Homo sapiens: one gene and its partner. The protein of the gene in region 1 binds, or shares a complex with, the protein of each later gene. Each region holds a gene or a part of one and is shown on either strand. Other genes may lie near its edges. The genes, in order: FLNC and FBLIM1.

Region 1 (9,191 bases):
CTGCTCTCCCCTAGAAGCTAACCTTTGACCTCTGACCCCTAGGTGACCGTGCTCTTTGCTGGCCAGAACATTGAACGCAGTCCCTTTGAGGTGAACGTGGGCATGGCCCTGGGAGATGCCAACAAGGTGTCAGCCCGTGGCCCTGGCCTGGAACCTGTGGGCAATGTGGCCAACAAACCCACCTACTTTGACATCTACACTGCGGGTAGGACGGGCCCCAGGGGGTGCAGGTGGAAAGCCCCTGACCATGTGGGGCTGTGTGGGGGTGGGGGGAGGCTGGGACAGGGATGCCAGCCAGAGGGTGGGCAGCCTCAGGGTGAGGGCACCGGGGCAGCTGTGTGTGTCCAGAGTGGTGCTGACAGCCTCTGTTTTCGGCAGGGGCCGGCACTGGCGATGTTGCTGTGGTGATCGTGGACCCACAGGGCCGGCGGGACACAGTGGAGGTGGCCCTGGAGGACAAGGGTGACAGCACGTTCCGCTGCACATACAGACCTGCCATGGAGGGGCCACATACCGTGCATGTGGCCTTTGCGGGTGCCCCCATCACCCGCAGTCCCTTCCCTGTCCATGTGTCGGAAGGTAAGGGCCCTTCACTGCTCCCCACGGTAGCCCTTACCAAAGCCAGAGGCTTGCAAGGGGCAGGAGGAAGAGCTGGGGCGGGGGTCTGCAGAGACCCCCTCCCTGAGTCCTCCATCCCACCCCCAAGGTGGCTGGAGTTCCTAAGAGCACAGCTGGGAGGCCACAGTGAAGGGTCCCAGAACATGTGCCACCCTGGGAGGGCTGAGCGGAAGTGACGGGGCTGTATGGGTGGGGGCATATCTAGGGAGTACTGCCTGCATGCCAAGCCCTCAGGTGGTGACTGCCCCACTTGTTCTCTCCCTGCACTCAGTGCCCATCGTCCACCAGGCCGAGAGTGATGCCACATTAATGCTCTCCAGTGGAGGCGGGGCCAGGCATGGCCGCAGCTGACTGGCCTCACCTGTGCTGTGTGGCATGGCCCGGGCCGTGTGGAATCGCCCCCCCTTCCTTGGCATTCTGTGGCAGGCCCCAGGTTCCATGCCGTTGTCTGTGTTCTGTGGCAGGTCTAGTGTCTTTGCCACTTGCCTGGTGATTTCTATGATGAAATCTGGGCTCTGAGCCATTGCCTGTGTTCCGTGGTACCCCTTGGGCAGTGCCATCGCCTATGGTCATGGTAGTCCTGGAATATGTGTCGTGTCCTGTTTCGTAGCACCTGTGGGTCCCATGCCATTTTTCTGGATTCTGTGGCAGGCTGAGATTCCCATTCCTTTGCCTGTGTTCCATAGCAAGGCCTGGGCTCATTGCCACTGGCCACGGTCTGTGGTAGGCTGATGTCCACACGTTGCCTGTGTTGTATGGCAGGCTTCGAGTTCTATGAAGTAGCCCTTGTTCTGTGGCATTGCTGGATGTTTTGTGGCATGACTTAGATCCTAAGGTTGCTTTGGTGCCCTGAGAGGCCCAGAGGGCTCTAGATGGATGGCCTTGGGCTGGGTAAAGGGGCCTTCCCTGTCTCTCTGAGCCCACTCTCAGCCCAGGCTCTGCCATGCATTTCCCCAGTGGCACTGGCTCGGAAACTTTCTTGTAACCTGCCTGATCTGGGGCCTGTAGCCAGCTCCAGCCCGGCAGCCCCGGTTGTGCTGGGGACACAAAGGGCTCCAGAGCAGGGCCGTGGGCCACTGCCTGTGCCTGGGAGGGGTTAGAAGGACTGTGCACAGGGAGGTGGGGGCTAGTGGTCCAAGGCCCCTCAGCACCCCCAACCTCCTTTCTCTTCCTCCCCTAGCCTGTAACCCCAACGCCTGCCGCGCCTCTGGGCGAGGCCTGCAGCCCAAGGGTGTTCGCGTGAAAGAGGTGGCTGACTTCAAGGTGTTTACCAAGGGTGCCGGCAGCGGGGAGCTCAAGGTCACGGTCAAGGGGCCAAGTGAGTGCCAGAGCCCAGGGTCGTGAGGGTGGGGCTGGGGGATCATAAGGGAAGTATGGCCAGTGGTTCTGACTCCCAGAGGGCAGTGACAGCCAGCACCACAGCTCCACAGTGACCAGAGGCACCCCAGAATCTCAGGCTCATTGTCTCCTCTCTGCCTCAGTTTCTTGGTCTACAAGCCAGGAATGATTCTCTCCACCCTAAGTGCTATACGGGGTGTTATGCACAGGGATGACAAGTGTTCCCTGCCCTGAGTTGCAGCACTGCTCACTACAGCACTGCCCTCGGGCTGGGTCGGGGTCCCAATGGCTCCTTGAGGGGATTGAGGAGCTGGGACTTCAAGGATATTGATCTGCCTTCTTCCCCACCCTGCCCCCATCTCCTCAGAGGGCACAGAGGAGCCAGTGAAGGTGCGGGAGGCTGGGGATGGTGTGTTCGAGTGCGAGTACTACCCGGTGGTGCCTGGGAAGTATGTGGTGACCATCACGTGGGGCGGCTACGCCATCCCTCGCAGGTGAGTACCTTGCGCCCCCCATGCTGTCCTGTCTAGGCCATCACAGGGAGGGACGAGGGGCACTGGGCTGCGAGGGAGTTTGAGGGGAGATGGAGTTTGGGCTGCGAGGGACTTTGGGGGGCACTTCCTGGCATGGACACCAGCTCCCTCTCTGCCCAGCCCCTTTGAGGTACAGGTGAGCCCAGAGGCAGGAGTGCAAAAGGTCCGGGCCTGGGGTCCTGGTTTGGAGACTGGCCAGGTGGGCAAGTCAGCCGATTTTGTGGTGGAAGCCATTGGCACCGAGGTGGGGACACTGGGTAAGTGGCTGGGGGGCAGGAGGAGGGAGTGCTGCGGGGGAGGGCAGCAGGGGACACTGTGGGTAATGGGTGCAGTGCGCATGCTGGGGAGCGCTGGGGTGAGCAGGGAGATAGGACATGAGGGCAGCTAGAGGGGAGCTGGGGGACGGAAGGGTCTTGCCTGATGCTGGATCCCCGACCCTCCCCCACCTTGCCCCAGGCTTCTCCATCGAGGGGCCCTCACAAGCCAAGATCGAATGTGACGACAAGGGGGATGGCTCCTGCGATGTGCGGTACTGGCCCACGGAGCCTGGGGAGTACGCTGTGCACGTCATCTGTGACGATGAGGACATCCGAGACTCACCCTTCATTGCCCACATCCTGCCCGCCCCACCTGACTGCTTCCCAGATAAGGTGTGGTCCCAGCTCACACACACCTGCCCCGGGGGTGGGGCAAGCTGGTTCTCCTCCCCTCCCCAACTCAGCCTTCTTCCCTCCGCACAGGTGAAGGCCTTTGGGCCTGGCCTGGAGCCTACCGGCTGCATCGTGGACAAGCCCGCTGAGTTCACCATTGATGCTCGTGCAGCTGGCAAGGGAGACCTGAAGCTCTATGCCCAGGTAGGTCATTGTCCAGTCTCTGCTGCCCTTACTACCCATGGCAGGGACCCTGGAAGGCAGGGCCAGGCCAGAGGCAGAGGCCTCCCAGCAGGAAATGACAGCATCACAGAAGATCAGGCAGGACTGATACTCATGGGCCCATCAGTACCATGGAAAATTTTAAATTTTGTGTTTTCTTAACGATGATAACCTAAAAACGTATTTTACCAAAGAGTCATTTTTGTGCTAATTTGTAATTGAAAGATTGTTTCATTGAATAAGACACTGGTTTCCCAAGTCAGTTTCTCAGACTGGTGTCCATTGACCCCTAGAGGTTAATGAACATATTCTTGAGGATCTAAGAGGGTGATTCTTCTTTGAAAGGCTCATGATTCAGTTTTAGGAACATAAATTTAGCCCACACTCTTCCTGTCCAACACATTTCAGAGTTGAGGAAACCTAGGCTGGGAGAGCAAGCCATACAGATGGCCTTGAGTCAGGCTCCCAGGGTGGGCTCTGGCCGCCAGAGCACGTGGCCCTGGGCTCTGGTGGCCTCAGTGGCTGGTGTGGGGGCGGGAGTGCCAGTGTTGGGGGTGGGAAAGGAGGCGCTGGGTTCACCTGCGGCCAGCAGAGGGCGCTCTGCAGAGGCCACAGCTATGAACTTTGCTTGGGTGATGCCCACAGGACGCCGACGGCTGTCCCATCGACATCAAGGTGATCCCCAACGGCGACGGCACCTTCCGCTGCTCCTACGTGCCCACCAAGCCCATTAAGCACACCATCATCATCTCCTGGGGAGGCGTAAACGTGCCCAAGAGCCCCTTCCGGGTGCGTCCTCCCGGCCTGCCCCGTGCCCACCACCAGGGGTCCCTGAGGGAGGGCGGAACCCTCGCTGGAGTCCCTGTTGTCCCTGGGCTCAGGCTGGGACTGAGGCTTGGGCTGGTGCCACTGAGGCTGGGCCGGGTGCGCTGGGCAGGAGGATGAGCCTTGAGGGAGGGCACCACGCTGAGCTGCGACCCCTCCCGCAGGTGAACGTGGGCGAGGGCAGCCACCCCGAGCGGGTAAAGGTGTACGGCCCCGGAGTGGAGAAGACAGGCCTCAAGGCCAATGAGCCCACCTACTTCACGGTGGACTGCAGCGAGGCGGGGCAAGGTGCGCCCAGCCGGAAGGGGTGGGTCTGGGAGGGGGCGGGGGTGAGTCGAGTCGGGGGCTGAGCCCAACTCACAGCAGTGCCCGCTTCTCTGCAGGCGACGTGAGCATCGGCATCAAGTGCGCCCCAGGCGTGGTGGGCCCTGCAGAGGCTGACATTGACTTCGACATCATCAAGAATGACAACGACACCTTCACCGTCAAGTACACGCCACCAGGGGCGGGCCGCTACACCATCATGGTGCTGTTTGCCAACCAGGTACCTAAGCTCCTGGGTACTCACAGCGACATGCACCTGCCAGCTCCAGAAGGCAGCTGGAGATGCTGTCACTGGGAACAGGGAGGGATGATTCCGCAGACATGGTGGAGCCCTACCTGTGTGAGGCAGGGTGCCTCAGAGGAAGCAAAGGGGGCCCTTTTGGAGGCTGCCCCTGTCCATGCTGGGTCCCCTGGGTGTGTCCTGAGCCAGCATCTAGCTGAGAGCAGGGGTGTGTTCCCCTCGAGAGCCCTGACTGAGCCTCCTCCACATCCAGGAGATCCCCGCCAGCCCCTTCCACATCAAGGTGGACCCATCCCACGATGCCAGCAAAGTCAAGGCCGAGGGCCCTGGGCTGAATCGCACAGGTGAGTGTCTGGGCAGGGGCTGGGACTGGCTCGAGGTTGGGGTTAGGTGGCTGCCAGGCCCTCACCACATCTCTGGGTGGGTCCTCAGGTGTGGAAGTCGGGAAGCCCACCCACTTCACGGTGCTGACCAAGGGAGCCGGCAAGGCCAAGCTGGATGTGCAGTTTGCAGGGACAGCCAAGGGCGAGGTTGTGCGGGACTTTGAGATCATAGACAACCATGACTACTCCTACACTGTCAAGTACACCGCTGTCCAGCAGGTGCGCTCTGCCCCTCCCATGCTACCGCCCGGCCGGCCCGCCAGAGCCCTGGGTCTCCCTCCTCCAGTCCCATGGGACCAGTTCTGGATCCTCCACGCCTTTCCTGCCTCCTGCCCTCACTCTCATGGTGGATCTGAGCTTCAGAGCCCATATTCACCACCAGGATGTTGTAGGACCTTGCCTTATATCCAGTTCTGACCTACCATTGTACCCAACAGGGCAACATGGCAGTGACAGTGACTTATGGCGGGGACCCTGTCCCCAAGAGCCCCTTTGTGGTGAATGTGGCACCCCCGCTGGACCTCAGCAAAATCAAAGTTCAGGGCCTTAATAGCAGTAAGTGGGGCAAGAGCCACCCTGGGAGTGAGGGGTATTCGGGTAGGGTGGACCGGAGTCTCCTCATGGTGTCACTTGCCCTCCACGCAGAGGTGGCTGTGGGACAGGAACAAGCATTCTCTGTGAACACACGAGGGGCTGGCGGTCAGGGCCAACTGGATGTGCGGATGACTTCGCCCTCTCGCCGGCCCATCCCCTGCAAGCTGGAGCCAGGCGGTGGAGCGGAAGCCCAGGCTGTGCGCTACATGCCCCCGGAGGAGGGGCCCTACAAGGTGGATATCACCTACGATGGTCACCCGGTGCCTGGCAGCCCGTTTGCTGTGGAGGGTGTCCTGCCCCCTGATCCCTCCAAGGTGAGGAGATAGGAGCTGGTTGGGGCTGGGAGTTGGGGACTTGTTGGGAAGATAGATGAGTCATAGGGGGCAGAGGCCAGAGGGACTTATGTGCCTGGAGTGGGCACAGCCAAGGGTGTGGGGCTGAGGCCAGCCCCACCCCACCACCTGCCTTGGAGACAACTTAGCTATTAAGAGCCTGGCCTTGGAGTCACACCTGGGCTTGAATCCCAGGTCCACTAACTGGGGCAAATTGCTTCATCTCGCTGCCTCAATGTCATCACCTGGGATTGTTATAAGCACTCAGTCCACAGTAGCAGCCACAGTTGGAGGTGATGAGTTGGGTGGGGGCCATGAAGGCTGGGATGAGGAGGCCAGGTGCAGGGAACCCACAACCTGCCTCTTCCCCTAGGTCTGTGCTTATGGCCCGGGTCTCAAGGGTGGACTGGTAGGCACCCCCGCGCCATTCTCCATCGACACCAAGGGGGCTGGCACAGGTGGCCTGGGGCTGACCGTAGAGGGCCCCTGCGAGGCCAAGATCGAGTGCCAGGACAATGGTGATGGCTCATGTGCTGTCAGCTACCTGCCCACGGAGCCTGGCGAGTACACCATCAACATCCTGTTTGCTGAGGCCCACATCCCTGGCTCGCCCTTCAAAGCCACCATTCGGCCTGTGTTTGACCCGAGCAAGGTGCGGGCCAGTGGACCGGGCCTGGAGCGCGGCAAGGTCGGTGAGGCAGCCACCTTCACTGTGGACTGCTCAGAGGCAGGCGAGGCGGAGCTGACCATTGAGATCCTGTCGGATGCCGGGGTCAAGGCCGAGGTGCTGATCCACAACAACGCGGATGGCACCTACCACATCACCTACAGCCCTGCCTTCCCTGGCACCTACACCATTACCATCAAGTATGGCGGGCATCCCGTGCCCAAATTCCCCACCCGTGTCCATGTGCAGCCTGCGGTCGATACCAGTGGCGTCAAGGTCTCAGGGCCTGGTGTTGAGCCACACGGTGAGTGGACAGGAGGAGCCAAGAAAGGTCAAGTGGCAGGTGCAGGAGCTGGGTAGTCCGTGGGAGGGAGGGAAGAAGAGCTGAGAGCTGGAAGAGCAACCTGGGGTGAAGGGAGGGCTCTCGGAGCAGCCCCAGAGTCCTTACTGGCCCAGAAACCCCAGAGAAGGAGTGGAGGGGAAGACCGGGGGTGGAGATTGGCCTCTGCTCTTGTGGCAAAACTGCACCTGCCTCTGGGCGTTTTTCTGGAGAGATCTCTTCTTTCATGTGCTTAAGGGGTACCCTGATCCAAAAAGCTAAAACTCTGCTCTGGACGGGGGCACGGGGAAAGCTTTGGGGTAGAGGATGACAAGAGTCAGAAGACAGTAAGTGGGAATGGGCCATCTGCCAGGGGCCAGACCCTGGCTAGGCATGGGCCACGGCAGAGGGATGCAAGACCCAGGCCCACAGCCTGGTGGGTGACTCAAGTGAACAGAGAATGTCACTACATGGAGAAGGGAGTGAAGGCAGAGGCTGGAGCTCACAGAGGTGCAGGGGAGGGTGTGGGGCCCAGGCTCCGATTAGAGGAGCAGCCTGGGAGTTGGGGAGTGGGAGAGGAGGGGGAGAGGAGGGTGAGAGGAGGGGAAGAGGAGGGGAAGAGGAGAGGGAGAGGAGAGGGAAAGGAGGGGGAGAGGAGAGGGAGCATCTGTGTGAAGGCTGCCCCCACCCCTGCTGAACACGCCACCCCTGGGCTCCAGGTGTCCTGCGGGAGGTGACCACTGAGTTCACTGTGGATGCAAGATCCCTAACAGCCACAGGCGGCAACCACGTGACGGCTCGTGTGCTCAACCCCTCGGGGGCCAAGACAGACACCTATGTGACAGACAATGGGGACGGCACCTACCGAGTGCAGTACACCGCCTACGAGGAGGGTGAGGGCCGGTGGGCCAGGCTAGTGGGCAGGGCTGGGCAAGTGGGCAGGGCCGGGATCTGATGATATTGCCCTCGGGGCAGGAGGGGTGGTGGGGGCGCACACTCCCTGATTGATGCCCCTGTGGCTGGCTTCCAGGCGTGCATCTGGTGGAGGTCCTGTATGATGAGGTCGCTGTGCCCAAGAGCCCCTTCCGAGTGGGCGTGACCGAGGGCTGTGATCCCACCCGCGTCCGAGCCTTCGGGCCAGGCCTGGAGGGTGGCTTGGTCAACAAGGCCAACCGATTCACTGTGGAGACCAGGTATCCTCCCCCTTTGCTAGCCTAAATCTGTGACCACCCTTTCCCAGCCCCTGGCCCTCCTCGCTCATCCCTCTGCCTGGGCCTCAGCCCCACCCCATCCTCTCTCAGGGGTGAGGCAGGAGCAGACCCCCTCCAGGACCCCAGATTGGCCCCTGTAGCTCGTTTCTCCTCAGCTGGGTCCCCAGCGGCCTGCCCTCTTTCCTCCCTGTCCCCCCATTCAGCTACTCCCTCATCCTCACTCACTGGTCTTATGAAGCTGATGGGGGGATGTTATCTCTCAGGGGAGCGGGCACCGGGGGCCTTGGCCTAGCCATCGAGGGTCCCTCGGAAGCCAAGATGTCCTGCAAGGACAACAAGGATGGTAGCTGCACCGTGGAGTACATCCCCTTCACTCCTGGAGACTATGACGTCAACATCACCTTCGGGGGGCGGCCCATCCCAGGTGTGCAGAGAGAGTGGTCGGGGTCTCAGGGAAGACAAGGGAGGGTGCAGGATGCTCGCCCCACAAGGGGGAAACTGGAAGGAAGTTGGGTAAGAATGTTCATAGAGAGGACAGCCTAGAGTGGGTTGGGGCCGGAGCCCGGCCAGAGGGAGGACGTGGAGGAGGCAGGCAATGAGGGTTGATGTGACAGCCCCCCTAGTCAATCACAGGAACACACTCTGGCCTCCTAGCCCCTTGTCTGGAGCTCAAGACCTTGGCTTTGCAGGTCCACCACTCACTGTGTGTCCAGAAACTCAGACACAGTCCACTCCTCTTGGCGGCTCAGGCCAGCCTTGGGCCTTCTTGCACGCATCGTCTGCAGAACTCCCCTGCCCTCTGCAGACCCAGCTGCCCGGGCAGGTCATGTCTTCAAATATTGTATGACTTGGGACTGCTGAAATTGGAAATTTTTTCCCTTATCTAATTTCCCATCTTTTTATTATTTCAGCCACAGTGTCAGAAATACATTTC
Region 2 (16,136 bases), on another chromosome or scaffold:
GGTTCTACAGCCAAAAGCGCCTGAAAACCCCCAGATCGCACCTTCCTCCTTTGAGTCCTTCCCGTCTCTGTCGTTCAGAGGGTATGGGGAAGTCTCCTCCAAAGGGTGCTGCAAAGCTGGAGTTTTGGGGGGCAGGGGCAGGATATCACTGCCAAGCCAGGAATGAGCCGAGCAGGGACTCAGACAGCCTTGAGTCCCAGCCTCGCCCTGCTGCACAGAACTCTCAGCACCTCCAAGCCCCAGCTTCCGATTCTGTAAAGGATGGCACTGGTACCTGTTCTTGAGACTAGCAGAGCTGTGTGCCCAGGGACACAGCGGCTCTGGTTTGAATTTGGCTCTGCCATTTGCCCCTAGTGTGGCCTTGAGCCTCTCGGGGCCTCAGTGTCCTTGACCGTGAACAGGAATCATCAGCCCTGGTGCTCATGGCTCTTGTGGGATTAGGATGGGGATGAGGATGGGTACCAGCACCTAGAAAGCCCCTATCAATGGCAGCTCCTGGGACTGCTGCTGTTACTGCAGCTTGGCTGAGAGGATCAAATGGGAAAAGGGGCGACAAGAGGGATGGGAGGGGCGATGATCAGTGGGTGAGGGCGGAGGCAGCCTCCTCTGACCCTCATAAACCAGCCTCCCTCAGAAACAGCCCCAGAGCCACCCTGGAGGGGTGACTGTAGCTGAGGGGTTGCAGGACGGGCCAGATCCTGTCTGGCCACCCCGCAGATGGCGCTGGGTCCAGCGCTCCTCAAGCCTCAGCCACTGTGGCTTTAATCAAAAGAACAATCTGTCTGCCTCTGAATCAGACCCAGATTCCTTTCCCCACAATGTCCCTGAGGCCTCCAGGGACCCAGGCAGTCCATCCCGGCCCCATCCCGGGCCCCAGAGTCCAGGCTCTGCCTCCCCTCCCGCTCCCGTCCTAATTGCTCCAGCTGGGAGGGGGAGGGTCACTGGATGTGGAGGGAGGGGTTCAGCCACAGGGCCAGCCGGGCCCTGCCTTCCAGAGCTCCTGGAGCGGCCTGTCCCCCGGGACACCGGGACCCACCTGCAGAGGGCTTACCGCTCAGGAGAGCAGAACAAGGTGACCTGCTCCACTGGGGGTCTCCGAGACCCCCACCCTCAGGAACACTCCCGGAAAAAGCCCCCAACCCAGCATATATTAACCACTATTAATCACAGTCCTGGCTGTAACTGTCACCTTTTATCCTCAGGCCAACCTGGAGAGGTAGGCAGTGGCTACCTCCACTTTACAGATGAAGACACTGAGGCTCAGGAGGTGGCGTGACTGCTCCGGGTCTCACGCTTAGTAAACGGCCGCAGAACCCTGGTCGGTTTGACGCAAGACCCTGGCGGATCCCAGAGCCAAAGTAAGCGCTCACCTCCGCCGGACAGGGTAGGTGGGGTTGCCAACCCAGGAGAGCGAGGGAAGGGGGACGGCAGGGACCACTCGGGGTCCATGAAGAACGCGAGGGGATGGGCAGCGGGGAGGGAAGGAAACCCACCCCGACTCCCCATTCTCCTACCCCCACTCCCCATCCCTCCCATTCCCCCATCGCCCCCATCCCCATTCCCCCCCATTCCCACCCCCTGGCCTGTGCCAAGGGGGAGGGGAGGCGTCGTCCAGGGAACAAAGGGAGGGGGAAGGGGCGGCGCGGGGCGCGGCCGGGCAGGTTGGGGGGCAGGTAGGGGCCGCTTCCGCGGGGCGGGAATCCCGCGCCCCCTCCCCCCGAGCCTCACCTTTTATGGTAAAGCGGCGCGGGGCGGCGGGGCGGAGGGAGCCGAGGGGGCGGGGAGGGCGGACGGGCGGAGGGGACGGGAGGCCCAGCGGCTCCGGGCTCCGCTGGCTCGGGCGTCGGATCGGAGCCGCCGGGGCGCGGGCGGCCCAGGTAAGCGGGCCGGGTGGGTGGGGGTCGCGTCCCTCCGTCCCTGTCCCCGGTGCACACAGGTGACAGCGCCGGCAGTGCTCGGCCGGAGCCTGCTCGGTCGCCAGCCGGGACCCCCGGCGCGGCGCCCCTGGAGGGGCCTGCGGGTGGGGGGTGCGGTCCTCACGCCCTTTGCGTCCCAGTCTCTTGGTCTCTCTCCCCGGAGTCGGGGAGTCGGCAGGTCCGGGGCGAGGGCTCAGTGAGGCCGGCGGAGGGCCGAGTCCCAGCCCGGGAGCGGGAGCCGGGGACCCGGCGCGCAGGGCGGAAGCTCCCGCACAAAAGGCCGGAGTCCCGCACATGGATCGAATTAAAGCTCCGGCGGCGCCCAGCGGTGACCCCGGCGGCCGCCCTGCTCGGCTGCCTGCGGAGGGTCCCGCGTTTCCGGAGCCCGGGGGCGCTCCAGGCCCCTTTTCCTAGCCAGGGTCAGGCAAGGGGAGGGACGGGTCCCGGGGCTGCTCCTCTCTGGGCCTCACGCGCCCGTCGGGGGCTGAGAAGGTGTGGAGATGGGCGATACCCAGGTGTGTGCCCTGGGATGATCTTGGCGTCGGCCCCTACCCCTCACCTCCCACCCAAGCCTGAGGACCCCGGGGAGAGGCTGGGGCCGCGCCCAGATTCCTGCTCTTAATGACGCTGTAGGTTCTGTCCGGGTCCTGGAGGCACCCCCAGCCGAGCCCAGCCCCCGGGCTGCTTCTCCCTCTCAGCTGCTGCCTAACCAGCTGTCCTTCTCTTTGCACCTTCCAAGGGCCTAGACCCTGAGTCTTCTTTCCTTATATATCCTCTCAGCCGCCCTAGGGACACACTCATTCTCACTTTATGAAAAAACGAGGCCAGAGAGTTTCTGTGACCTATTCGGGGTCACCCCGCAGGAAAGAAGTGGGGCCGCGTGTGAACCCAGCTCTCTACCTCCTCTGTTTCCCTGGGGTGGGAAAGAGGTTGAGGGAACCCCTCCCCTAAGTTGCAGGGTGGGAGGGGTTGGGGCACACCCCGCCACTTCTGCCTAAATTTAATTCCGTACCCAAAGGTAGACTGCTTTATCCGGTCATTAAAGAACAAAGCTGGCCGGGAGCGGTGGCTCACGCCTGTAATCCCAGCACTTTGGGAGGCCGAGGCGGGCGGATTACCTGAAGTCAGGAGTTGGAGACCAGCCTGGCCAACGTGGTGAAACCCCGTCTCTACTAAAAATACAAAAATTAGCCGGGTGTGGTGGCGCGCGCCTGTAATCCCAGCTATTCGGCGGCTGAGGCACGAGAATCGCTTGAACCCAGGAGGCGGAGGTTGCAGTGAGCCGAGATCGCACCACTGCGCAGCCTGGGCCACAGAATGAGACTCTGTCTCAAAATAAATAAATAAATAACAAAGCTTAAGCCGGGTGTAGTGGCTCAAGCCTGTAATCCCAGCACTCTGGGAGGCCGAGGAGGGCGGATCACTTGAGGTCAGGAGTTTGAGACCAGCCTGGTCAACATGGTGAAACCCTGTCTCTACCAAAAATACAAAAATTAGCCAGGGGTGGTGGCGTGTGCCTGTGGTCCCAGCTACTCAGGAGGCTGAGGCAGGACAATCGCTTGAACCTGGGAGGTGGAGGTTTCAGTGAGCTGAGATTGCGCCACTGCACTCCAGCCTCGGCCACAGAGCAAGATTCTGTCTCAGAAAAAAAAAAAAAAAAAAAAAGAACAGAGCTTAGAGGTGGCCCCAGAGGTTTTTTTGTTTTTTTTTTTCTTTGTAGGGAACAAGGAGTAGGAAGGAGGACTGTGGGGGTGACCCCCCCTGAGCTGCACATTCTCTGCCCCAAGGCTGCAGCCTCTAGCTGGTCTGGGTGGCTGGCTGGATCCCTGCCTCCTTCCTTCCTTTGGACAGGAAATGACTTTCCTTCCCTTTGTTCCCACTTTTCTCCACTTATCTAACTGGATCTGTGATTCGCTCTCTGGGGGAGGAAGAGTGGGGGCGGAGGGTCCCCTGGGCACAGCTGACTGGGAGATGGCCCCAGGGAACTTACACACAGCCTGCTCCCAGCTGAATCGGTGGCAGTGGGACGGGAGGGAAGCCGGGGCTCCCTCTCCCGATGGGATTGACAGGGCTTTGAAACTCCCCAGCTTAGACCCCCTGGGGCCTGAGGTCCCTGCAGTCACTGCTTGGGAGGTATAGGGGCTGCCCAGCTGTGAACATCTGGCCTCAGTGCTGGACATTTTCCGAGAAGCCAGGCAGATCCGACTTCCCGGAGGAGTGTAGGAAGGGTCAGGGCTGGGTGGGAGGAGGCAGAGGGCCATCCCGAAGCCCCACAGCAGCCCCTGGGGACCAGCCCGGAACATGCCGACCACAAGATTTCTGGTCTGGATTGGGCCATTGTAGAGTGAGAACAGGCCTGGGAACTTGGGCGACTTTGTGCCACCCAAGGAAGGAAAAGCGTGTCTGGGGACACACTTTTGGATGATGTTCCATTAGAATTCCGAGTGCCATGGATGGCCTGGGAAAGTCACTTAACCTCTTGGAACCTCACAGGGTCCATCTGCAAAGTGGGGGCAGGATGGGCATTTCTTGCAGCTAGATTGAGAGGCTGGTGGGTTTTGAGGCACATATAGTACCTGGCACAGGGCCTGGCACGAAACAAGTGCCTTATCAGCAAGTCGTTTGGTATTTCTTTAAATCTCACATGTACTCTGAACATTGTTGACAAAAATAGATTCTTAAACTTATAACAAAGTGTAAAACTAAAGCCCGTGACAGCCAGCCTAAGCATACGTACTTCCAGACATCATTTCCAAACCCAGAAGCAAAAGACAAGTACTTTAAAATAAGTTTTGAAGCTCTTTCCTAATATATTGGTTTCTTCCTCAGAATAGATATTTTATTGTCAGACTGAGCTATGTATTTTAGCCAAACAACTTAAGGGAATTTAGGAGCACGTGTTATTGTTTTTATTATCATCCATCAGTCGCTGTGAACCCAAAGTGGCCAGTGCACTTTGAGATAAGGAGGGAAGCCTGAAGAGCGAGATAGAAAAGGGGACATTTTTAGCCCTGGGCACAGGCATTGGGTGCCTGCTGAGGACTGATGTGCTCACTGGACTCCCAGCTTTCCCACCCATGGCCCCACCTCAGCCTTGGCCACAGGGACTACTGTCAGCAGGAACTACCTGAGAGATGGGAAATAATGTCCTTTTCCTGACATCAGGGTATCAGGGTGCCACCATGCTCTCTGATTTATGCTTTTCTTTTTTTTTTTTTCGAGACAGAGTTTCACTCTGTCACCTCGGCTGGAGTGCAGTGGCACAATCTCAGCTCACTGCAACCTCGCCTCCCAGGATTCAAGCGATTCTCCTGCCTCAGCCTCCTAAGTAGCTGGGGACTACAGGTGCATGCCACCATTTCTGGCTAATTTGTTTTTTTTTTTTTTTTTTTTTGAGACAGACTCTTGCTCTGTTGCCCAGGCTGGAGTGTGGTGGTGCAATCTCGGCTTACTGCAACCTCCGCCTCCCGGGTTCAAGCAATTCTCTGTCTCAGCCTCCCGAGTAGCTGAGATAACAGGCGTCTGCCACCATGCCCAGCTAATTTTTGTATTTTTAGTAGAGACAGGGTTTCACCATCTTGGCCAGGCTGGTCTTGAACTCCTTACCTCGTGATCCAACCACCTTGCCCTCCAAAAATGCTAAGATTACAGGCATAAGCCTCCACGCCAGGCCAAATTTTTGTATTTTTAGTAGAGACAGTGTTTCACCATGTTGGCCAGGATGGTCTTGAACTCCTGACCTCAAGTGATCGCCTACCTCCCAAAGTGCTGTGATTACAGGCGTGAGCCATCGGGTGGCCAGATCTGGGTTTTGATGCCTGCGCTCTGATATCCTCTAGGCACACAAAGAATGCAGACACCGGTCAGACGCATTGATAGTGAGCTTGTGAGCCAGCCTGTCCTGCCCTGGGGCTATCATCGCTTTCGTCCACCCTTGGCAGCAGGAAACTGCCCCTGGAGAGGGCCAGGAATCGGGGGGTGCCTTGTGGAAGAGGTGATGTTTGAGCTGGGCCTCTAAGAGAAAGCTGAAATTCACCCTGTGGGGGCAGGACAGGAAAACCATAGAAGAAACACTGCAAGGCAAGAGAGAGGACATAGGAAGGGCGAGTGGTCCAGGGGCTCAAAGAGGCTGAGGCTGCCGCAGTTGGACTTCATCCTGAGGTGGTGGAGAGCCATACTTTTTTTCTTTTTTTTTTTTTAGACAGAGTTTCGCTCTTGTTGCCCAGGCTAGAGTGCAATGGTGCCATCTCACCTCACTGCAACCTCCACTCCCACGGGTTCAAGTGATTCTCCTGCCTCAGCCTCCCAAGTAGCTGGGATTACAGGCGCCCGCCAGCACACCCAGCTAATTTTTGTATTTTTAGTAGAGATGGGGTTTTACCATGTTGGCCAGGCTGGTCTCGAACTCCAGACCTCAGGTGATCCACCTGCCTCTGCCTCCCAAAGTGCTGGGACAGAGTCTCACCGGGGTGCGATGGCTCACGCCTGTAATCCCAGCACTTTGGGAGGCTGAGGTGGGCGGATCACGAGGTCAGGAGATCAAGACCATCCTGGTTAACATGGTGAAACCCCATCACTACTAAAAATACAAAAACAAAATTAGCCGGGCGTGGTGGCGGGCACCTGTAGTCCCAGCTACTCGGGAGGCTGAGGCAGGAGAATGGCGTGAACCTGGGAAGTGGAGCTTGCAGTGAGCCAAGATCGTGCCACTGCACTCCGGCCTGGGCAACAGAGCAAGATTCCGTCTCAAAAAATAAAAATAAATAAAAAAAGACAGAGTCTCGCTCTGTTGCCCAGACTGGAGGGCAGTGGTGCAATCTTGGCTCACCACAACCTCGGCCTCCCAGGTTCAAGCGATTCTCCTGCCTCACCCTCCCAAGTAGCTGGGATTACAGGTGCCCACCACCACGCATGGCTAATTTTTGTATTTTTAGTAGAGATGGGGTTTCACCATGTTGGCAGGGTGGTCTCAAACTCCTGGCCTCAAGTGATCCACCTGCCTCGGCCTCCCAAAATGCTGGGATTACAGCTGTGAGCCACCATGCCCGGCCCATGGAAGGTTTTTGAGTAAAGGAGAAAGAGATTGATGCTCTAGAAAGATCAGGGTTAGGAGGTGAGACCAGAGGCCATGGAGCCTCCCCATCTCTCCCCTTGCCCCCTGCCCACTGCCCAGGCCTGAACCAGGACCCAGGTTTTGGAGATTGGGTGGAGTGAGAGAGTCTGGCACTAGAAAGCAAGCAAGGAGGGTGCTGGCTCATGTGCAGGGCTGAGAAAGGTCAGAGCAGAGCAAAGTGGCCAAGAGCATGGGCTCTGGGTTCCAGTGCCACCTCACCACCGTGTGACCCTGGACAGGTGACTTCTCTCTGAGTCTCGATTTCTTGATGTGTTAGGTGGGTGATGATAGTGCCTGCCCTGCAGCCACCTTGTGAGTGTTTATGAGTTAATGAGCATAACGTGTGAGTGTTTATGAGTTAATGAGTATAACATGCTCAGGGCAGAGCCGGTCTTGGTGAGGGCAGCTCTCACTGTGCCCTGCCCACTCTGCCGCCGGAGCCTAGCCCTGACGCCCTGGCAGATCCTGATCTGTTCTCTTTCCCTCCCAAAGCAGAGCTGGCCTGAACCTCCAGGACTTCAGCCCTTCTAGGAGAATCTGATCCCAGGTGAGGGAGGTCACTTGGGGTGTGGCCCAGCAGGCAGGCGGGACTCCAGACTGGGAACGGAAGTCAGCCCTGCTGGGGCTGGGAGCTGAAGCATCTGTTCCTTCCTCGCGGGTGTGAGACAAGGAAGAGTGATCATTGGTGAGGGCTGCCCTTTGCTCCCCTAGGTGTGCAGGTTCGGGGGAGGGGCAGTCAGGACTTTTGGGTCTCACCCCTGTGGCCAAGTTCCCTGGTGGGTCCTGTCTTCCCCAGCAGGACACCCCCACCCCTTCTCTGGCTGGGCTGGGTGCTGGACTGAGTTGTTGAGATGGTAGGGTGGCTGGCCTGTCTTTTTGGGAGGAGGGAGGCTCTCTCCTCTCGGGGGAGGGTGGCTGTGTGTCTGGGTGGCAATCCTGTGCTGTACCCCACTCTGTCCCTAGCCACACCAGGAGCTGAAGCCATGGCCTCAAAGCCTGAGAAGAGGGTGGCATCGTCTGTCTTTATCACCCTGGCACCCCCGCGCCGCGATGTGGCCGTGGCGGAGGAAGTGAGGCAGGCAGTTTGTGAGGCCCGGCGTGGCCGCCCCTGGGAGGCTCCTGCCCCCATGAAGACACCCGAGGCTGGCTTGGCGGGGAGGCCCAGCCCCTGGACAACCCCTGGCAGAGCTGCAGCCACAGTGCCGGCTGCACCTATGCAGCTCTTCAATGGAGGTAAGAGCTGAGGGGACTTTGGGGAAGACCACGTCAGAGGCAGAGGTGGGGAGGAAAGGGCAGGCTCCAGCGTCATTCATTCATTCATTATTCATCCTGACAAAATTCACACATCAACGGGAAACAAAAAGATGTGCCCCTTCTGGGTGGGCAAGGGAGCCCGGGAAATAGAGGCTAGATGTCAGAATTTCCGGGACATTTTCATGGGTTATTGGGATTATGGGAAGAGGATCTTGGGAGTGTGGGAACAAGATCAAACTTGCCTGGGAAGGGCTGTCCTGTCACTGGTCAGCATGGCTGGCTGGCCGTTTCGTCTGCCAATTTAATACCCTCAAGCAGAGCACGGGGATCTTGGGGTTCAGTCTCCCTGAAGTGAGATAAGTTTTAGGTGACCAGCTTGGTCATGCGCCTGGTCTGACTGCAGGACACAAAGGCTGGCCCCGGGCCCTGGGGATGCTGCCAGCTGCTTGAAGCCGTCTACACCGAAGGCTGCCATCTGCCATCTGCTTAGTACTTGTCCTCTCAGAGTCATCCTCGAGCGGGTCCAGGACCCCCTTTCTGCCCACCTGCCCTGTGGCCTCGGGTCCCCCTGCTTCTCTCTTGAATTCCTGCCCGCCCATCATAGCCTATGGGCCCTGCACCGGGAGGCAGGCACTGGGAGAGGCCACAGCACTCTTACTGCCTCTCCAAGACCTGGTTCCTGACTCCGTGAGCTCATCGGAGCCTCTTTCTCTCACTTCCGCTGAGTCAGCAGCAGCATCACCCGGGCCTGTACCAACACAGTCACTGGGTCCATTCCAGCACAGCCGCAGGCTCCCACCCCAAGTATCTCTGATTCAGCAGATCTGCCGTGGAGCCTGAGAATTTGCATTTTTTTTTTTCGAGACAGGGTCTTATTCTGTCACCCAAGCTGCAGTGCAGTGCAGTGCAGTGGTGTGATCACGGCTCACTGTAGCCTCAACCTCCCTGGCTCAAGCAATCCTCCCACCTCAGCCTCCCAAGGAGCTGGGACCACAAGCTCTCACCACCAGGCCCAGCTAATTTGTGTGTGTGTGTGTATGTGTGTGTGTGTGTATATTTTGAGACGAAGTCTCGCTCTGTCACCCAAGCAGGAGTGCAGTGGTGCGATCTCGGCTCACTGCAACCTCTGCTCCCCAGGTTCAAGCAGTTCTCCTGCCTCAGCCTCCCAAGTAGCTAGGATTACAGGCGCCCACCATCACACCCAGCTGATTTTTGTATTTTTAGTAGAGACAGGGTTTCACCAGGGTTGCCAGGCTGGTCTCAAATTCCTGACCTCAGGTGATCTGCCCGCCTCAGCCTCCCAAAGTGCTGGGATTACAGGCGTGAGCCACCGCGCCCAGCCTAATTTTTTTTTTTTTAGATGGAGTTTTGCTTTTGTTGCCCGGGCTGGAGTGCAGTGGCGCAATCTCAGCTCACTGCAACCTCCGCCTCCTGGGTTCAAGTGAATATCCTGCCTCAGCCTCCTAAGTAGCTGGGATTACAGGCATGCCCACCACGCCCAGCTAATTTTGTGTTTTTCGTAGAGATGGGGTTTCTCCATGTTGGTCAGGCTGGTCTCAAACTTCCAACCTCAGGTGATCTGCCTGCCTCAGTCCCCCAAAGTGCTGGGATTACAGGTGTGAGCCACTGCACCCGGCTTTTTTTTTTTTTTTTGAGACAGGTTCTGGCTCTGTCACCCAGGCTGGAGTGCAGTAATGTGATCTAAGCTCACTGCAGCCTCAACCTCTTGGGCTTAAGTGATCCTTCCACGTCAGCCTCCCAAGTAGCTAGGACTACAGGCTTGTGCTGCCATGCCTGGCTACATTTTTTTTAATTTTTAGTAGAGTTGAGGTCTCACTATGTTGCCCAGGCTGCTCTTGAACTTCTGGGTTCAAGCGAACTGCCTACCTCGGCCTCCCAAAGTGCTGAGATTATAGGCATGAGCCACCGTGCCTGGCCTGAGATTAAGTTTCTTGCCTAAGGACACACAGCAAATCAGTGGCAGAGTTAGACATGGAACCCAGGCCGGGGTGATCCCGACCGGGGCCCTCAGCTTCCCTCTGTATGGCCATGTAGGTAAGTAAAACCCTCCCAGGTCCACCTGGGAGGCTCTGACCAGCCCTCTCTCCTCCCCCATTGCAGGATGCCCACCCCCTCCTCCTGTCCTGGATGGTGAGGACGTGCTTCCTGACCTGGACCTCCTCCCACCCCCTCCACCGCCCCCTCCAGTGCTTCTGCCTTCTGAAGAGGAGGCTCCTGCTCCAATGGGGGCCTCACTCATTGCAGACTTAGAGCAGCTGCACCTGTCCCCGCCCCCGCCCCCACCACAGGTACTGCCTGCCCCCCGACCCCCAGCAATCCCTTGGTCCCCTTGGTTGGGGCACGGGGAGTCTGGGCCTTCTGGGCATTCAGGGGTTCTAAACCTGGACTTTGTCTGGTGCATTCTTCTGCTCGGGGGCAGTCCCTCTTTGAAGCTCTCAGAAGTCCCTATTTAGGCAGGTAAAAATTGGTTAAGTGTTTCAGGGTCCCTGGAGAGGGATGCCACTGCCTCGCTGCTGCACCTGCCGCAGACACCTCCTTCAGCTCTGAGGAAGACGTTTCCCTGAGTCCGACCTAAATCCCTTAGGCTGCATAGGAAACCTGGATTTTTGTTTGTTTGTTTGTTTTTGAGATGGAGTCTCGCTCTGTCACCCAGGCTGGAGTGCAATGGCATGATCTTGGCTCACTGTAGCCTCCACCTCCCAGGTTCAAGCGATTCTCCTGCCATAGTCTCCTGAGTATCTGGGATTACAGGCACCCACACCATGCCTGGCTAATTTATTGTGCTTTTATAGAGACAGGGTTTCACCATGTTGGTCAGGCTGGTCTCAGACTACTTACCTCACGTGATCCGCATGGCTCGGCCTCCCAAAGTGCTGGAATTACAGGTTTGAGCCACTGCACCTGGCCAGGAACCTGTTTTTTAACCCTGGGCCCTTAACAGAGGCTGTGTAGAAATGGGGGGCGTCACAGGCCAAGGGCTTAGTCCACTTCAGTCCAGCATCCATGGGGAAGCCTGGTTGCAGGAGAGTCCTTCTAAGTAGGACAAGGAGCAGTGGCTGATTGAGGGACCCCAGTCAGCTGCCACTGTGACCTTCCTGCTGAGAGACTTACGCAGGTCCCTTGCTTCCCTGGGCCTTGGTTTCCTTCTCGGTACAATGCGGCTAATTGTACCTGTTACCACCCAGATGAGGAACAGAGCTGGGAGGGCTGCATGGGGTCCCACTGGATGACTCCCCGTCTGCATCCCCACAGGCCCCAGCGGAGGGACCTTCAGTCCAGCCCGGTCCCCTCAGGCCCATGGAGGAAGAGCTGCCACCTCCCCCGGCAGAACCTGTTGAGAAAGGGGCATCCACAGGTAGGTGCACAGGGCTGAGAGGATACTGGGGTGATCTCATGGGGCCAGCATGGGCTTCCAGGTAGAAACCAAGAGAGTGAGGACCCCTCTTCCCATCCCCACCCCAGCTCATGTTAACAATGATGGGCTTTGTAGTTCGGCATCCATTTAATTTGTATTGCTTTAGCCTTTTTCCCTTTATACCTAAATTCTATTTAAAATGTTAGTCTGCAGTTTGCTATGATAGCAAAAATGTCTTGAATTTTTTCTCACTATTTTATTTTCTGAACACCTAATGCCCTCACACAGTGCAAAATAAACAGCATGAGTGGGGACACAGTGAGAAGCCTGCAACCTGCCCCATCCCCCTACCACCCGGTTTCCTTCCAGATGGGTGTCCTCTGTCATTGAGCTCTCATGTATCCTGCCAAAGACACTATGCACATACGAGCAAATACAAATATGTGTCCACCTGCTCCCTCCCCCCATTTTTCCATAAGTAGCAAACTAGGCTCTTCTGCTGTTCACTTTCTTTCCTTCGTACATCTCAGAGCTGGTCACACATCAGAATATAAAGTGGCTCCTGGCTGAGCGTGGTGGCTCACGCCTATAATCCCAGCATTTTGGGAGGCTGAGGCAGGTGGATCACCTGAGGTCAGGAGTTCGAGATCCGCCTGGCCAACATGGTGAAATGCTGTCTCTACTAAAAATACGAAAGTTAGCTGGGTGTGGTGGTGTGTGCCTGTAATCCCAGCTACTCGGGAGGCTGAGGCAGGAGAATCTCTTGAACCCAGGAGGCGGAGGTTGCAGTGAGCTGAGATTGCGCCACTGCTCTCCAGCCTGGGTGACAGAGTGAGCTTCCGTCTCAAAAAAATAAAAAAATAAAATAAAATAAATAAACAAAGTGGCTCCTGGCTGGGTGTAGTGGTTCATGCCTGTAATCCCAGCACTTTGGGAGGTCAAGGCAGCCAACAATCCCTTTGTCCTGAAACTGCTGTCCAGAATTCCTTATTTATTTATGTTATTTATTTTTATTTTTATTTTTTTAGACAGAGTCTTGCTCTGTCACCAGGCTAGAGTGCAGTGGCGCGATCTTGGCTCATTGCAACCTCCACCTCCTGGGTTTAAGCGAGTCTCCTGCCTCAGTCTCCTGAGTACTGGGACTACAGGCGCCCGCTACCACGCCCAGCTAATTTTTGTATTTTTAGTAGAGACAGGGTTTCACCATGTTGGCCAGATGGTCTCGATCTCTTGACCTTGTGATCCGCCCACCTCGGCATCCCAAAGTGCTGAGATTACAGGTGTGAGCCACCGCGCCGGGCTCTTTATTTTTTTTAATTTTTATTGTTTTTCCTGAAACAGAGCCTCACTCTGTTACCCATGCTGGAGTGCAATGGCACAGTCTCGGCTCACTATAACCTCTGCCTCCTAGGTTCAAGTGATTCTCCTGCCTCAGCCCCATGAGTAGCTGGGACTACGGGGGCATGCCACTATGCCCGGCTAATTTTTGTATTTTTAGTAGAGATGGGGTTTCACCATGTTGGCCAGGCTGGTCTTGAACTCCTGTCCTCAAGTGATCCGCTCACCTTGGCCTCCCAAAGTGCTGGCATTACAGGTGTGAGCCACCATGCCTGACTCAGATTCCTTTTTAATGCTCCTCATGACCCTCTGTATTTGTCATTTGAGGAATTTGCAGGGTTTAAGACAGAGCCTCGGGTATCCTGAGCATGTTCTGGGTGGTGCCTGGGTACAGTCCTCACAGGCTGGGCTGGTGATGGCCTGTGTCTCCCCTACCCCAGACATCTGTGCCTTCTGCCACAAGACCGTGTCCCCCCGAGAGCTGGCTGTGGAGGCCATGAAGAGGCAGTACCATGCCCAGTGCTTCACGTGCCGCACCTGCCGCCGCCAGCTGGCTGGGCAGAGCTTCTACCAGAAGGATGGGCGACCCCTCTGCGAACCCTGCTACCAGGTAACCCCTGCAGCAGACCTCTGGGTGCCAGGCAGTGAGCTGAGCACTTAGAATATGTTGCACCATTTCATTCCCCACACAGTCCTGGGAAGTAGGCACTATTGACCCCTTTCACAGATGAGGAAACTGAGGCTCAGAAAGAAGGAGCCCAGTGAAGGCGATTGGTTTCCTAGGGCTGCCTGTAAGAGATCACCACAACCTTCGTGGCTTCCAGCAGTACACGTTTATTCTGTCCCAGTTCGGGAGATCAAAAGTCCAAAATCAGCTTCACTGGGCCAAAACCAAGGTGGTGTGCTGTCTGGAGGCTTGAGGGAGAACCCACATCTCTGCCTTTTGCAATTTCTTTTTTTCTTCTTCTTCTTCTTTTTTTTTGCGGTGGGGGACGGAGTCTCACTCTATCGCCCAGGCTGGAGTGCAGTGGCACGATGTCAGCTCACTGCAACCTCGGCCACCCAGGTTCAAGGGATTCTCCTGCCTCAGCCTCCCGAGTAGCTGGGATTACAGGCACCTGACACCACACCCGGCTAATTTTTGTATTTTTGGTAGAGATGGGGTTTCACCATCTTGGCCAGGCTGGTCTTGAACTCCTGACCTCGTGAGCCACCCACCTCGACCTCCCAAAGTGCTGGGATTACAGGCATGAGCCACTGCGCCCAGCCTGTTTTTTTTTGTTTTTTTTTTTTTTTAAGATGGAGGCTCATTCTGTCACCCCAGCTGGAGTGCAGTCGTACAATCTCAGATCACTGCAACCTCTGCTTCCCGGGTTGAAGCAATTCCCATGTCTCAGCCTCCTGAGTAGCTGGGACTACAGGTGCCTGCCACCATGCCCAACTAATTTTTGTATTTTTAGTAGAGATGGGATTTCACCACTTTGGCCAGGCTGGTCTCAAACTCCTGACCTCAAGGAATCCACCCCCTCGGCCTCACAAAGTGCTGGGATTACAGGTGTGAGCCACCGCACCTGGCCCCTTTTGCAGTTTATGAAGCTGCATTCTCCTTGACTCCTTCCTCTGCTTCAAAGCCAGCAGTGTAGCATCCCACTTCAGCGGCCCTATTGTCACCTCTGTGTCAAGTTACAGGGACACGCGATGGCATTTAGGACCCACCTGGATAATCAGGATAATCTCCCCCATCTTAAGATCCTTAGCTCATCCCATCTGAAAGCCTCTTTTGCCGGGCAAGGTAACATTCGGGGTCCAGAGATAAGGACTGGATATCTTTGGGGGCATCTCTTAGCTACCACACGAGGTCACACGAGATGGCCAAGGAGCTGGGATTCTACTCCACACCCATCTGGCTCTGGAGCCTGCCATCAGTCTTGCCACTATCTCCCCTAGAGTAGAGCCACAGGGTTCCAATGTTTGATCTCACGGGAATCTGTGTTGCTTCCGGGTACCAAGTGCAATCTGGGAGAGCCAGCTGGGATGCCAGCACACTGGAATTTCTAACTCTTGGATGGTTTGTGGTGGCATGTTGAGTGTGGTGACCACCCACAGCCGCATCCCCTGGGGATGTGTAGGCCACTCTTTGTGCTTATGAATGAGGAACACCTGGAAATCAGCATTTTGAATCAGTGTCTCAAGTGATTCTCATGCATATAGAAGTTTGAAAACGGCTGATTTGAAGGGTTAGAGTATTTGGAGCTGAGACTCTCCAGAAGAATCCAAACAATCCAATCCCAGGCTCACCACCAGTGAGGCACTGTGGGAAGAGAGAGGAGCCAGGCCCTCCCTGCCGTGTCCCTGTGACCCCATCAACATCATGGGGGAGTGTTCCTCAGGGGTGAGACACCAGGGGAGGAGGGGTGTCCAGCTGGAAGCAGGAAGCAGCCAGGAGGAAGACTTGAGCAGTGTGCTGGGGAGAGAAGGGCCATGCCCATGAGAGGGAGGGGGGAGTGGGAGATGCCCCCACACGTGTCCAGGTGAGGTCAAGGTAAAATGCACAGGAGCACAGCCAGGAAGGAGAGACAGCATGTCCAGGAGAAAAGGTGGAAAGGCTAGAGGGAAGCCCACTGCCCTGCCTCGGGAATCTCTTTGTCATTGCTCCTCATTCCAGAAGGAATTTGAGGCAGCTTCTATGAATGCATGTATACCAGCCAGGCGCGGTGGCTCACACCTGCAATCTCAGCACTTTGGGAGGCTGAGGTGGGAGGATTACTTGAGGTCAGAAGTTCAAGACGAGCCTGGGCAACATAGCAAGACTCCATCTCTATTTTAATATAGCTATTTTTTTATTAAAATATGTTTTTAAAGAGAATGCATATATACCTATAGACCACAATAACATGCGTGCACTGAAAAATTCCACGTGATTCTCCCGCCTCAGCCTCTCAAGTAGCTGGGATTACAGTTGCCCACCACCACGCCCGGCTATTTTTTGTATTTTTAGTAGAGACGGGGGTTTCACCATGTTGGCCAGGCTTGTCTGGAACTCCTGACCTCAGGAGATCTGCCTGCCTCAGCCTCCCAAAGTCCAGGGATTACAGGCATAAGCCACCTTGCCTGGCGCATTTCTTCTTAAAGCATCATA

What was found.
Region 2: the proteins of FLNC (region 1) and FBLIM1 are in contact, whole or in part, in an NMR structure (PDB 2K9U), measured with the Homo sapiens proteins. Residues at the interface, in NP_001449.3 of Homo sapiens: Thr2339, Ala2344, Gly2345, Gly2346, Leu2347, Ser2348, Ile2349, Ala2350, Val2351, Glu2352, Gly2353, Pro2354, Ser2355, Lys2356, Ile2359, Phe2361, Asp2380, Glu2382, Phe2387; in NP_001337080.1 of Homo sapiens: Arg8, Val9, Ala10, Ser11, Ser12, Val13, Phe14, Ile15, Thr16, Leu17, Pro19.

The regions. Positions count from the first base shown.
Region 1 is NC_000007.14:128,838,225-128,847,415, forward strand, and holds part of FLNC (filamin-C), read left to right. Parts: intron 1-42; coding exon 43-205; intron 206-378; coding exon 379-579; intron 580-1,798; coding exon 1,799-1,936; intron 1,937-2,323; coding exon 2,324-2,450; intron 2,451-2,609; coding exon 2,610-2,746; intron 2,747-2,945; coding exon 2,946-3,139; intron 3,140-3,229; coding exon 3,230-3,343; intron 3,344-4,006; coding exon 4,007-4,150; intron 4,151-4,350; coding exon 4,351-4,474; intron 4,475-4,569; coding exon 4,570-4,730; intron 4,731-5,004; coding exon 5,005-5,095; intron 5,096-5,183; coding exon 5,184-5,353; intron 5,354-5,571; coding exon 5,572-5,689; intron 5,690-5,779; coding exon 5,780-6,042; intron 6,043-6,433; coding exon 6,434-7,031; intron 7,032-7,765; coding exon 7,766-7,939; intron 7,940-8,076; coding exon 8,077-8,239; intron 8,240-8,520; coding exon 8,521-8,681; intron 8,682-9,191.
Region 2 is NC_000001.11:15,756,972-15,773,107, forward strand, and holds the start of FBLIM1 (filamin-binding LIM protein 1), read left to right. Parts: upstream 1-1,823; 5' UTR 1,824-1,877; intron 1,878-7,521; exon of another isoform or gene 7,522-7,524; 5' UTR 7,525-7,714; intron 7,715-7,992; 5' UTR 7,993-8,012; coding exon 8,013-8,262; intron 8,263-10,404; coding exon 10,405-10,592; intron 10,593-11,556; coding exon 11,557-11,659; intron 11,660-13,437; coding exon 13,438-13,607; intron 13,608-16,136. UniProt on the Homo sapiens protein: Serves as an anchoring site for cell-ECM adhesion proteins and filamin-containing actin filaments. Is implicated in cell shape modulation (spreading) and motility.